Linked DNA regions of Homo sapiens: region 1 is reported to be linked to region 2. The links are microRNA targets in miRTarBase. Many come from high-throughput screens and were not tested one by one. Region 2 holds a microRNA gene; the other region holds the end of a gene's coding sequence.
Evidence for each region. The annotated mature microRNA hsa-miR-6761-5p reads UCUGAGAGAGCUCGAUGGCAG and lies in region 2 at 3,418-3,438, shown strand. An mRNA with a match to its seed (bases 2 to 7 or 8) in the 3' UTR can be bound and repressed. Matches are read on the target gene's strand: a 7mer-m8 pairs with bases 2 to 8, a 7mer-A1 pairs with bases 2 to 7 and ends in A, and an 8mer does both.

Region 1: miRTarBase lists IRAG1 as a target of hsa-miR-6761-5p. Seed matches in the 3' UTR shown: 7mer-A1 at 4,018-4,024.

The regions. Positions count from the first base shown.
Region 1 is chr11:10,571,742-10,576,809 of GRCh38, forward strand. IRAG1 (inositol 1,4,5-triphosphate receptor associated 1) reads right to left here. Exons shown (of 21, transcript NM_130385.4): 21 at 1,354-4,834. The coding sequence ends at 4,591. All of the region lies in intron 1 of IRAG1-AS1 (IRAG1 antisense RNA 1), which reads left to right. Among named protein-coding and RNA genes, the nearest start is that of LYVE1, 5.6 kb to the left of the region's middle.
Region 2 is chr12:111,796,422-111,801,497 of GRCh38, forward strand. It overlaps MIR6761 (microRNA 6761), which reads left to right and starts at 3,413; the gene lies at 3,413-3,484. ALDH2 (aldehyde dehydrogenase 2 family member) reads left to right here. Exons shown (of 13, transcript NM_000690.4): 10 at 1,657-1,821; 11 at 3,485-3,642.

The sequences.
Region 1 (5,068 bases), not on the chromosome of region 2:
TCTGTTGCTGGACACATTTTAATACCATATCTTGGCGATTGTGAATACTGCTGCAATAAACATGAGGGTGCAGGTATCTCTCTGATATATTTTCTTTCCTCCTCAAAGCTGTTTCCTCACCTGAACAATGAAAGGGGTTTTTAGTCCTGGCTTGTGTTTCTTTGTAAATTCCCTCACAAAGTTAGATTTCTGCTTCCATGTGCCAATAATCATACCCCAAATCCTTTCCCAGTCATAATTCTCAAGAAGTATTTCCTGTTTCTCAGCACCATACCCCTCAAATTTAGTGGTGAATACACTAAGTTCATTTGAACTCACAAAGGGCCACATCCTTAATCTAGCCTTTGCCATAAGGCTGAGTCGATCTGTTCAACTGAGAAATTTTATTGGCTCCCACTCAAAGCTCTTTTTAGTCTGTCTGGGATTTAGAAGTGGTCAGGTTTTCTCACCCTTCAATCTTTCACATTTCTGAATACTCTATATTCTTTTTCATTTTTGCTCCCACATAGCCAATTATTTCTCCTGCCATACCTTGCCAAAGGCAGCCAAGAGAAGTTTCCATACCCCAACGCTGATTCTTTCCACCACTTATAAATAGGCTAACCATGAGATGCTTTCCAAGTTATCACAGGTAAGACTTTACTATCTTACCATCTTTCTAGCAGTTTTGTTTCTTGCCATGTAACTGGTAAGCTAGAACCTCATATTTTGGAATTTTGCTATTAAAGTACACAATTTCTGGTTCAAATGTATGCATTAGGGTAGGCTAACTGCTATAAACATCCTGGAATCTCTGTGGCTTAATATACTAAAATCTTATTTCTTATTCATGTCACAGTTCAATACTGGGAGTGCTCATTCAAAGACCCAGCTTCCGTCTAGTGGTTCTGCCATTTTCTCGGGTCTCAGTGTTCTCATCTGAATCCTCTGGCTTTGGTAGGCAGAGAAGGGAGTAAAAAAAGGTGTGAAGTATTGGGCAGGAGAGTTTATTTTTAGGGAACTAGATTTGGAAAGTCCACATTCCCCTGCAGCTAGCTGTAAGAAAGACAAAAATAGTTCAGCTGTGGAAATCAGGTTGGTTAAAAACTCAGCAGACTCAATCACAGCAAACTGTGTTAATTAAAAAAATCATAGACCAGGAAGATACAGGAAACCAGGATCAGGAATGGGGAAGGGAAGAGGAGGAACTGATCCAGCCCCTGTGAGGTAGCCCATAGTATAACGACCAAGGGTTGGGGACCTCTGACTTGGTTCTGGAATGCACTAATATATCCAAAGGCATCTAATTCTGGGTTGGGGTAAGACTGTAATTCAACTCCATAAAATGAGGAGGCATTTGGCTGCTGCCAGAGGTTTGGAAATGTGCTTTTATTTTCAAACTCAGGTATGTGACACTCTACAGTTCAATGCTAGCACACCTGTGTGAGGCTTAACAACATGAGGAACTGATAGCCAGTGATACACAAATCCAGCACTTCCTCTCCATTTACTCTGTCAGGCTGTATATGGGGAGCAACACATATGGCTTTGTGGCAGCCAGAAAGTGAAGGTCTTTTTAGGAGGTGACATCAACAATGACACAAACACATCACTCTGCAACTGAAGGCAGGGAACCAGACTCCTAGGGCTAAGCAGAGATGTCAGACTTCAGAGGCATTTGGGGGACTCTTCAGATCCACATCCTCACTGAAAATCCAGGGCCTGTTTCTCTCCAGTTCACTACCGCTTGGGCAGCAGCTCCCACTGCTTCAGGCTGGTCTTTGCTTTCCAGAAAAGATGGACTCATGAGCACTTTTTCAGCCCCTGTATATATGGCTATTCTTATGCTCCCTTTTGGAGATGTCCTTTTCCTCGACCTCCCTTGCTTACAAATGGAATAGGGTGGGAGAGGGCCTGTGCCTGGAAGTACTCTTGCAGGCTTTTCTGTGGGGCAGCTGGAGGTGCAGGAGCTCTCCATAACTGCCTTCCTGGCCTTTGACTCATCCAGAAACAAAGGTAGGAAACTTGTGACCAAGTGAACAATGGGGCCAGCTGAGCCTGGCCCTGCTTTAAGGGAGGCAGAGATTGAACATTCCCCACCTGGAGTTCTGCTTCCACGGCCACTCTCTAGAACTCTATTTGCATCCTGTCTTTGGCTCTGAGGGCCTCATGTAGCTAAAGCTCCTTCAGTTGTATCCAGACCCCCTGGAAGAGGCCGGGCAAATCATCCACTTCTGCCCCCAGAGTCCCTCTGCCCTGCTCTGTAACTCTTTACCTTAATGGCACATCCTTGATCAACCCTGGCTTGGGCCTCAGTCATTTTCTAGCTACTGTAAAGGATGCCCCCTTCAATAAACATGCTATTTTAAAGTGGGGCATGCTTGGGGTGGGGGGTCTCTCTGAAGGAGTGACTGCATTGAGCCCAGTCCTTGAGCTTGGCAATGGTGTTGCTAGTCTGGTCTCATTCCTGCTCTCTCACAGAGTAGACTGAAAAACAGAATAAGCTGAGGTTAAGAAAGATGTTGCTTTTTGCATTGTGATGGTGCTGGTACTGAGAAGCATGCAGCATGTCAGCTGTCCCCAGGCTGCTCTCCACCACCTTAAATGTTTGCTTGTTCTTTTGAGCAACATTTAATGACACCCTCCCAAGCGTCAGCCACCATGCTAGGCACTTACCCAAGAGATGGGTAAGACATGGTTCTTGTCTTTGAGGAAAAATGCTAGGGGAGATGGATACATAAATAGGCCATGGTATACTATAGGTAAAGGTCAATAATAATAATGTTTAAAACGTGCCAGAAAGCACAGAGGAGTGTGTGACCTATTATGTTGTGTCTGGTGAGGAGTATGGAAGGAAGGTCATCAAAGCTGGTATGGAGGGGATAATTTTTGCACTCGGTCGAGAAGAGTGACCTGAAGAAAAGAGAAGAACAGCTGGAAAAAAAACTAGTGAGTGGAGGTCCAGCACTATGAGAGAAACTGTTTAGTTGGGGAGCCAGAGATGGAGTAGCTGATGGGCCACTTGGGGGAATGAGACTGAAATGTGAGGCTTCCAGCTAGGAGACCATCAGAAGAGTCAAGGAGAGCACAGCTCTGGAGCCAGCCTACCCTGGGGTTGAGCTCCAGCCCCATGATTTACTACCGGGGTGTCCTTGTCAAGTTACTTGTTCTTTTTGTGCTTCAGTTTCCTTATTTGAAAATGGGAAGGGTAATATCCACTTCGTATTTTTTTTTCTTTTTCTTCAGGACTTAAATGAATTCATACCTATGTAATACTGAGAACAGTGCTTGGCTCATAGTAAGTCGTATATGAGTTTTAGCAATGAAAGCAAACAATATCAATAACAAAACAAAAATGCAAAACAATGACAACAAAACCCACATGGAAATCAAACCTCTACAAAACTGATGAAGGCAGTGGCTGTAAAAGTGGGGAGAGAAGTCAAAATGGAGAGGGGATGTGCTCCTTCAGTGTTGTGCTAAATAACTGGGGATGCTCTGAAACACCCCTAATTATACTGGGGTTGGAAACCCCATTTGAACTGAAGCACTGAGGTGCAAGTTTACTCTTGCATGTGGTCACACACAGAGTAAGAGACTGAAGCAGAAAGCACATCTTCTCTCCTCATTCACCTGTGAGGTGGGTTAACTGTTTTCAAAGAGAGAATAGGGAATAGATTGTGCTGTACAGCAGCTCAGAGTTGGCATTTGAAATGGAGACTAGTAAGTCTGCCATTGAAGCCATGAGTTTTCTGTGTTTTTAAAACATCTTCAATCCATGTGGACAGCTCATTGAACAGGTGCCTGGTGACTGCCCCACACTGGTGAAAATCTGTGGGTTGGCTTGGCATGCATCTTATTTATCCAGAGGTACACACCCAGAGCACACTTTTGAAGGGTTGTTGGCTCTGTGCACAGGCATGTTGTGTGTGTGTACACAACAGTATGTGTGTATGTGTGGACAGATGCGTATATAATAATTCATATCTTCCCATTTCAAGCACTGAGCTAAATTCAGCCTATACTTTTTTTTTTTTTTCTGAGAAGCCTTTCCTACTTCTGTAAAAAGAAACTCTCATTCCAAAGGAAAGAATGGGAGGCTGAAGTTATTGAAAATGAGATGGGAAATGGGAAGATAGTCACTTTGCAACTCCAAATTCCAGGTCTGATGCTTAGGGTGTTAGTCATTAAGCAAATTCTTCCTGATAACCAATTACAGAGAGGAAAAAAGAGAGTAAGTTTTTTACTGCCCCCTACCTCCTCCTCCCCCGTGCCCCGCTCCTTACCCCCAACCACCAGTGAAGGTGTTTTAGTTCTCCCCAGCCACCTGAGCTAGGGGCAGGAGACCTTCCCTTCCAATAGAGTTCCTTGGTGAAGGTGACTTCTTCATCCACTGGATGCTTTCCCAGGGCAGTTTTGTTGATCCTCCAAGAACATCAAGTCACTGTGTATGAATAGCTCCCACAGAAGTGCCGAGTGTTAAAAGAACCCTTCCTCATGACCTGATGGGATGGGCGGCAGTGTGTCCACACTTGGGCCTGACGTTATACTTGGGGAAAGGGTGGTAGTCTGAGTGTCTCAGAGCAGGGCACTGGCTAGGTGTGAGGTTTCCTACTGCTCTGTAGGCTGCTCATGCTGGAGTCCTGAGCTCCACCAGGAGTCCCTCTGGGCTGCCGAGCAAGTGGATCTTCCAAGGGGCCCATCAGCCTGCTCTGCACAAGAGTTATAGGAATTGTAGAGCCCCAGCACAACAGTCAAGACCAGCATCACTGCAGCCATCATCCAGATCACTTGCCAGTGCTGACACAGTTTGGGATACATGACTTGTAAGAAATGGACCAATTCTTCAAGTTTGCTGTCAATGAAAAAAAATATGCAGAGGCTTTAGTATACTGGGCACACATATGATACACAGACCCACAGTTCTCTCTGCGGATAGCTTCCATGCTGTCTTGAGCAATAGTTCTCAAACTTAGCTGTGCCTAGATTGGGTTGGCAGCAATTGTTCAAAATACCCCAAGCATACTAAATGAGAATATCCAAAGTTATGGTCCAGGAATCATTGGCTAAATTTTCCCAGGTGATTTTG
Region 2 (5,076 bases):
AGCCCAGGAGGTCAAGGCTGCAGTGAGCAGTGATCACACCACTGCACTGCTGCCTGAGTGGCAGAGTGAGGCCCTGACTCTTTTTAAAAAAAGGTATTTAATGTAAAAAATAAGACTTTGTTGCATTTCTTTTATTCTCCATTGGTAACCACTCATGCACACACAGTTATGCTGTTGTATGTTTATTTTTTAAAAAATAGGCTGGGTGTGGTGGCTAACCCCTGTAGTCCTAACACTTGGGAGGGAGGCCAAGGTGAGTCAATTACTTGAGCCCAGGAGTTAGATACTAGCCTGGGCAACATAGCAAAACCCCATCCCTACTAAAAATATAAAAATTACCCAGGTGTGGTGGCACACACCTGTGGTCCAGCTACTCGGGAGACTGAGATGAGAAGATACCTGAGCTCAGGGAGATTGAAGTTGCAGTGAGCCGTGATTGTGCCACTGCTCTTCAGACTGGGCAATAGAGTGAGACCCTGTCGCCCTTCTCCCCTACCCTATAAAGGAGTATATAAGTGCATATTGTTCTACAAGCTTTACTTCTTTTTTTTTTTTTTTTTGAGACGAAGTCTCTGTTGCCAGAGCTGGAGTGCAATAGCGCGATCTTGGCTTACTGCAATCTCCACCTCCCTGGTTCAAGCGATTCTCCTGCCTCAGCATGTGCCACCATGCCCAGCTAATTTTTGTATTTTTAGTAGAGACGGGGTTTCACTATGTTGGCCAGGCTAGTCTTGAACTCCTGACCTCATGATCTGCCTGCCTCGTCCTCCCAAAGTGCCGAGATTACAGGCGTGAGCCACTGCCCCTGGCCCAAGCTTTCCTTCTTTTTACAGAGTATCTTGGGCCATCTTTCTGTGTCAGTTAGTTCACAGATCTATTAGTGATGACAATATACTGGATGCACCGTAATAATTTTAACCAACCCCTCTACTGATTTATACTTAGAATTGTTTCCATCTTTTGCCTTTACAAAATGCTCCCCCAGCCTGGGCTACAAGGCAAAACCCTGTCTCTACTAAAAATACAAAAATTAGCCCAGCGTAGGGGTGCATGCCTATAGTCCCAGCTACTCGGGAGGCTGAGGTGGGAGGATCATTTGAGCATGAGAGGCAGAGGTTACAGTGAGTGGAGATCGCACCACTGCACTCCAGCCTGGGTGACAGAGTGAGACCCCATCTCAAAAACAAAAATACAAAAAAAAAAAAATACTCCCTAGTGAATATCCTTGTTCATTTCTCTTTGTGCATATGTAGAATAAATTCCTAGAAGTTAAATAGCTGGGCCAAAGGATCTGAGTATATAATTTTTGAGCAATATTAATAAACCACTTGCTCTAAAGGCTGTACCAGTCTGTCATCCTTCTAACAGTATATGTAACGGTCTCTTGCTATCAGTGTATTTTCTTCCTAAACTTTTTGGTAATCTTATAGTTGAAAAGTAAAGATTGATTTGATGTCCTTTTCTCCGGTAGGCTGAGGAAGTTGGGCCTTTTTTGTGTTTTCTGCTATTGGCCCTGTGTGTTTCCTCTTCTGATCTTGCTTTCTTATGACCTTGGTCCATTTCCCAGTTGTCTTGTTGCCTGCATAATTCTAAGCCTGAAGCCTAGGAGAGGTCTGAATCCGATGTCTCCATAACTCTGGGTTCCTTCTCCCACAGGTGGATGAAACTCAGTTTAAGAAGATCCTCGGCTACATCAACACGGGGAAGCAAGAGGGGGCGAAGCTGCTGTGTGGTGGGGGCATTGCTGCTGACCGTGGTTACTTCATCCAGCCCACTGTGTTTGGAGATGTGCAGGATGGCATGACCATCGCCAAGGAGGAGGTGAGCACTTGGGGCCAGTGCTCTGGAAACATTCTTGGCGGGAGGTGAGGTAAACAGTTCAGCCTGGCATCCTGATGCTGTCACCCATCTGCTGGCTTGGGGCCAGATCTCAAGTTATACCCAGAACCAGTGCCCATAACACGCTATTCATAGTATGTATCTGATCTTGTCCCTCCTCTTCAGCTTGTACCCTCTGTCTGGGAGATCGTCTGCATTCCTCAGCATGGCCTGCAGGCCTTGGTGTCCTGGCCCTCAGAGCCAGGAGTCTAGGAATGACATTGTCTGCTCCTTCCCATGACCTTTTTTCTTTCAGTCAGATTCTTGCTCTGTTGCCCAGGCTGGAGTGCAGTGGCATAATCATGGCTCCTTATAGCCTTGAACTCTTGGGCTCAAATGATCCTCCCACCTCAGCCTTCTGAGTAGCTGGGACTACAGGTGCTCACCACCATGCCTGGCTAATTTTAAAAAAATTTTTTAGTACAGGCTGGGTGCAGTTGCTCACGCCTGTAATCCCAACACTTTGGGAGGCCGAAGTGGGTGGATCACCTGAGGTCATGAGTTCGAGACCAGCCTGGCCAACATGGCAAAACCCTGTCTGTATTAAAAATAAGAAAAAATTAGCCCTGCGTGGTGGCGCTTGCTTGAAATCCCAGCTACTCTGGAGGCTGAGGCAGGAGAATCGCTTGAACCTGGGAGGCAGAGGTTTCAGTGAGCCGAGATCGCGCCACTGCACTCCAGCCTAGGCAACAGAGCGGGACTCTGTCTCCAGTTTTAGCCACGCCTGGCTAATTTTTGTATTTTTAGTAAAGACAGGGTTTCACCATGTTGATCAGACTAGTCTCGAACTCCTGACTTCGTGATCTGCCTGCCTCGGCCTCCCAAAGTGCTGGGATTACAGGCATGAGCCACCACGCCCGGCTTATTTTTTCTCTTCTCGTTTTGAGATGGAGTCTCACTCTGTCGCCAGGCTGGAGTGCAGTGGTGCAATCTCAGCTCACTGCAACCTCTGCCTCCCGGGTTCAAGCGATTCTCCTGCCTCAGACCCTACTAGTAGCTGGGATTACAGGCGCACACCACCACGCCCAGCTAATTTTTCTTATTTTCAGTAGAGATGGGGTTTCACCATGTTGGCCAGGCTTGTCTCCAACTCCTGACCTCAGGTGATCCACCTGCCTCAGCCTCCCAAAATGCTGGGATTACAGGTGTGAGCCATCGTGCCTGGCCAAAAATTTTTTTTTTTTTTTTGAGTAAAGACAGGGTCTCTCTGTGTTTGCCAGGCTGGACTCGAACTCCTAGACTCAAGCAGTTCTCCCACCTTGGCCTCCCAAAGTGCTGGGATTACAGGCATGAGCCACAATGCCCAGCTGACTTAAATTCTTTGACACTAAATCTACGTGTCACGTGTGAATAACATACCTGGCAGGATTGTTTAGAAATGGGATACTGTATGTAAAGCCCGGGGCGCACAGGAGGAAGTTGGCCCCTGTTAGCTCCATTCCCTCTGTGTTCTGCTGAGCTTGATGGCTGTTGTCTTCCCCTGGAACTGTTAGAGCATGGCTGGGGGCTTATCCCCCAATCTGGAATCATCTGTTCTGCTCTGAGAGAGCTCGATGGCAGGTGCCTCCGTGTTGCCGAACCCTCCTACGCTGCTCTCTCACTCCAGATCTTCGGGCCAGTGATGCAGATCCTGAAGTTCAAGACCATAGAGGAGGTTGTTGGGAGAGCCAACAATTCCACGTACGGGCTGGCCGCAGCTGTCTTCACAAAGGATTTGGACAAGGCCAATTACCTGTCCCAGGCCCTCCAGGCGGGCACTGTGTGGTAAGAGCCTCCCAGCAGCCCCTCACAACCCAACAGAGATTCCTCAAAGCCAGGGCCTACTGGAATCTGGTGGTCACCATCCTGGAATTTGGGGAGCTGGGCTCAGTTTCTCCTGGGTCAGGGTGTGATGTCGATTTGAGAGGTCCTGCTACCTCACCTCCGAAGGATCAAGCTTCTCTGTGGTGCAAAGGCCCTGCACCTGAACTTGGCAGGCAGCGGAGTGGTGGGGCTCCTCCCCAGCTGCCTCAGGGCAGGAGACCAGAGCAGAGGGACCCATGATTGTGACACTGATCCTAAAAGCTTAGCCTCTGCTTCACACTTAGCCCCCACTAGGATGGCTATATTTTTATTATTTATTTATTTTTAGTTTTATTTTTTCAGACAGAAAAAAATATTCTACCCAGGCTGAAGTGCTGTGGGGTGCGATTATAGCTCACTGCAGCCTTGAACTCCTGGGCTCAAGCAATCCTCCCACCTCTGCCTCCTGAGTAGCTGGGACCACAGGTGTGTACCACCACACCTGGACAATTAAAAAACATTTTTATTTTTTGTAGAGATGAGATCTCGCCATGTTGCCCAGGCTGGGCTATATGTATATATATTTTAAAGTATTGGTAAGGATGTGGAGAAATCGGAACCCTCCTATGTTGCTGATGGGAATGGAAAATGGCACACTCATTGTGGAAAATAATTTGGGAGCTCCTCAAAAAGTTAAACATGAAGCCCCCATATGACCCAGCAATTCCACTCCTAGGTATTTATCCAAGAGAAAGAAAAACGTGCTCCCACATAAAAACGTGTATATGAATCTTCACAGCAGCATTATTTGTAACAGCCAAAAGGTGAACACAACCCAAATGTCCGTCTGTAGATGAATGGATACAGAATGTGATCTGTCCATGCAATGAAATGTGGCTCAGCCACAGAAAGGAATGAAGTAGCTGTATGAGTCTGTTCTCACACTGCTGGTAAAGACATTGCAGAGACCGGGTAATTTATAAAGGAAAGAGGTTTAATGGACTCACACAGTTCCACGTGGCTGGGGAGGCCTCACAATCATGGTGAAAGGTGAAAAGCATGTCTCACGTGGTGGCAGACAAGAGAAGAGAACTTGTGCAGGGAAACTCCCCTTTATAAAACCATCAGATCTTGTGAGACTTACTCACTGTCACAAGAATAGCATGGGAAAGACCTGGCCCCATGATTCAATTACCTCCCACAACACGTGGGAATTGTGGGAGCTACAATTCAAGATGAGATTTGGGTGGGGACAAAGCCAAGCCATATCAGTAGCCATGCATGCAATAGCATGGATTAATCTTGAACATAACATTGAGTGAAAGAACCCAGACTGTCTGGGTGCGGTGGCTCATGCCTGTAATCCCAGCACTTTGGGAAGCCGAGGTGGGTAGGTCACTTGAGGTCAAGAGTTTG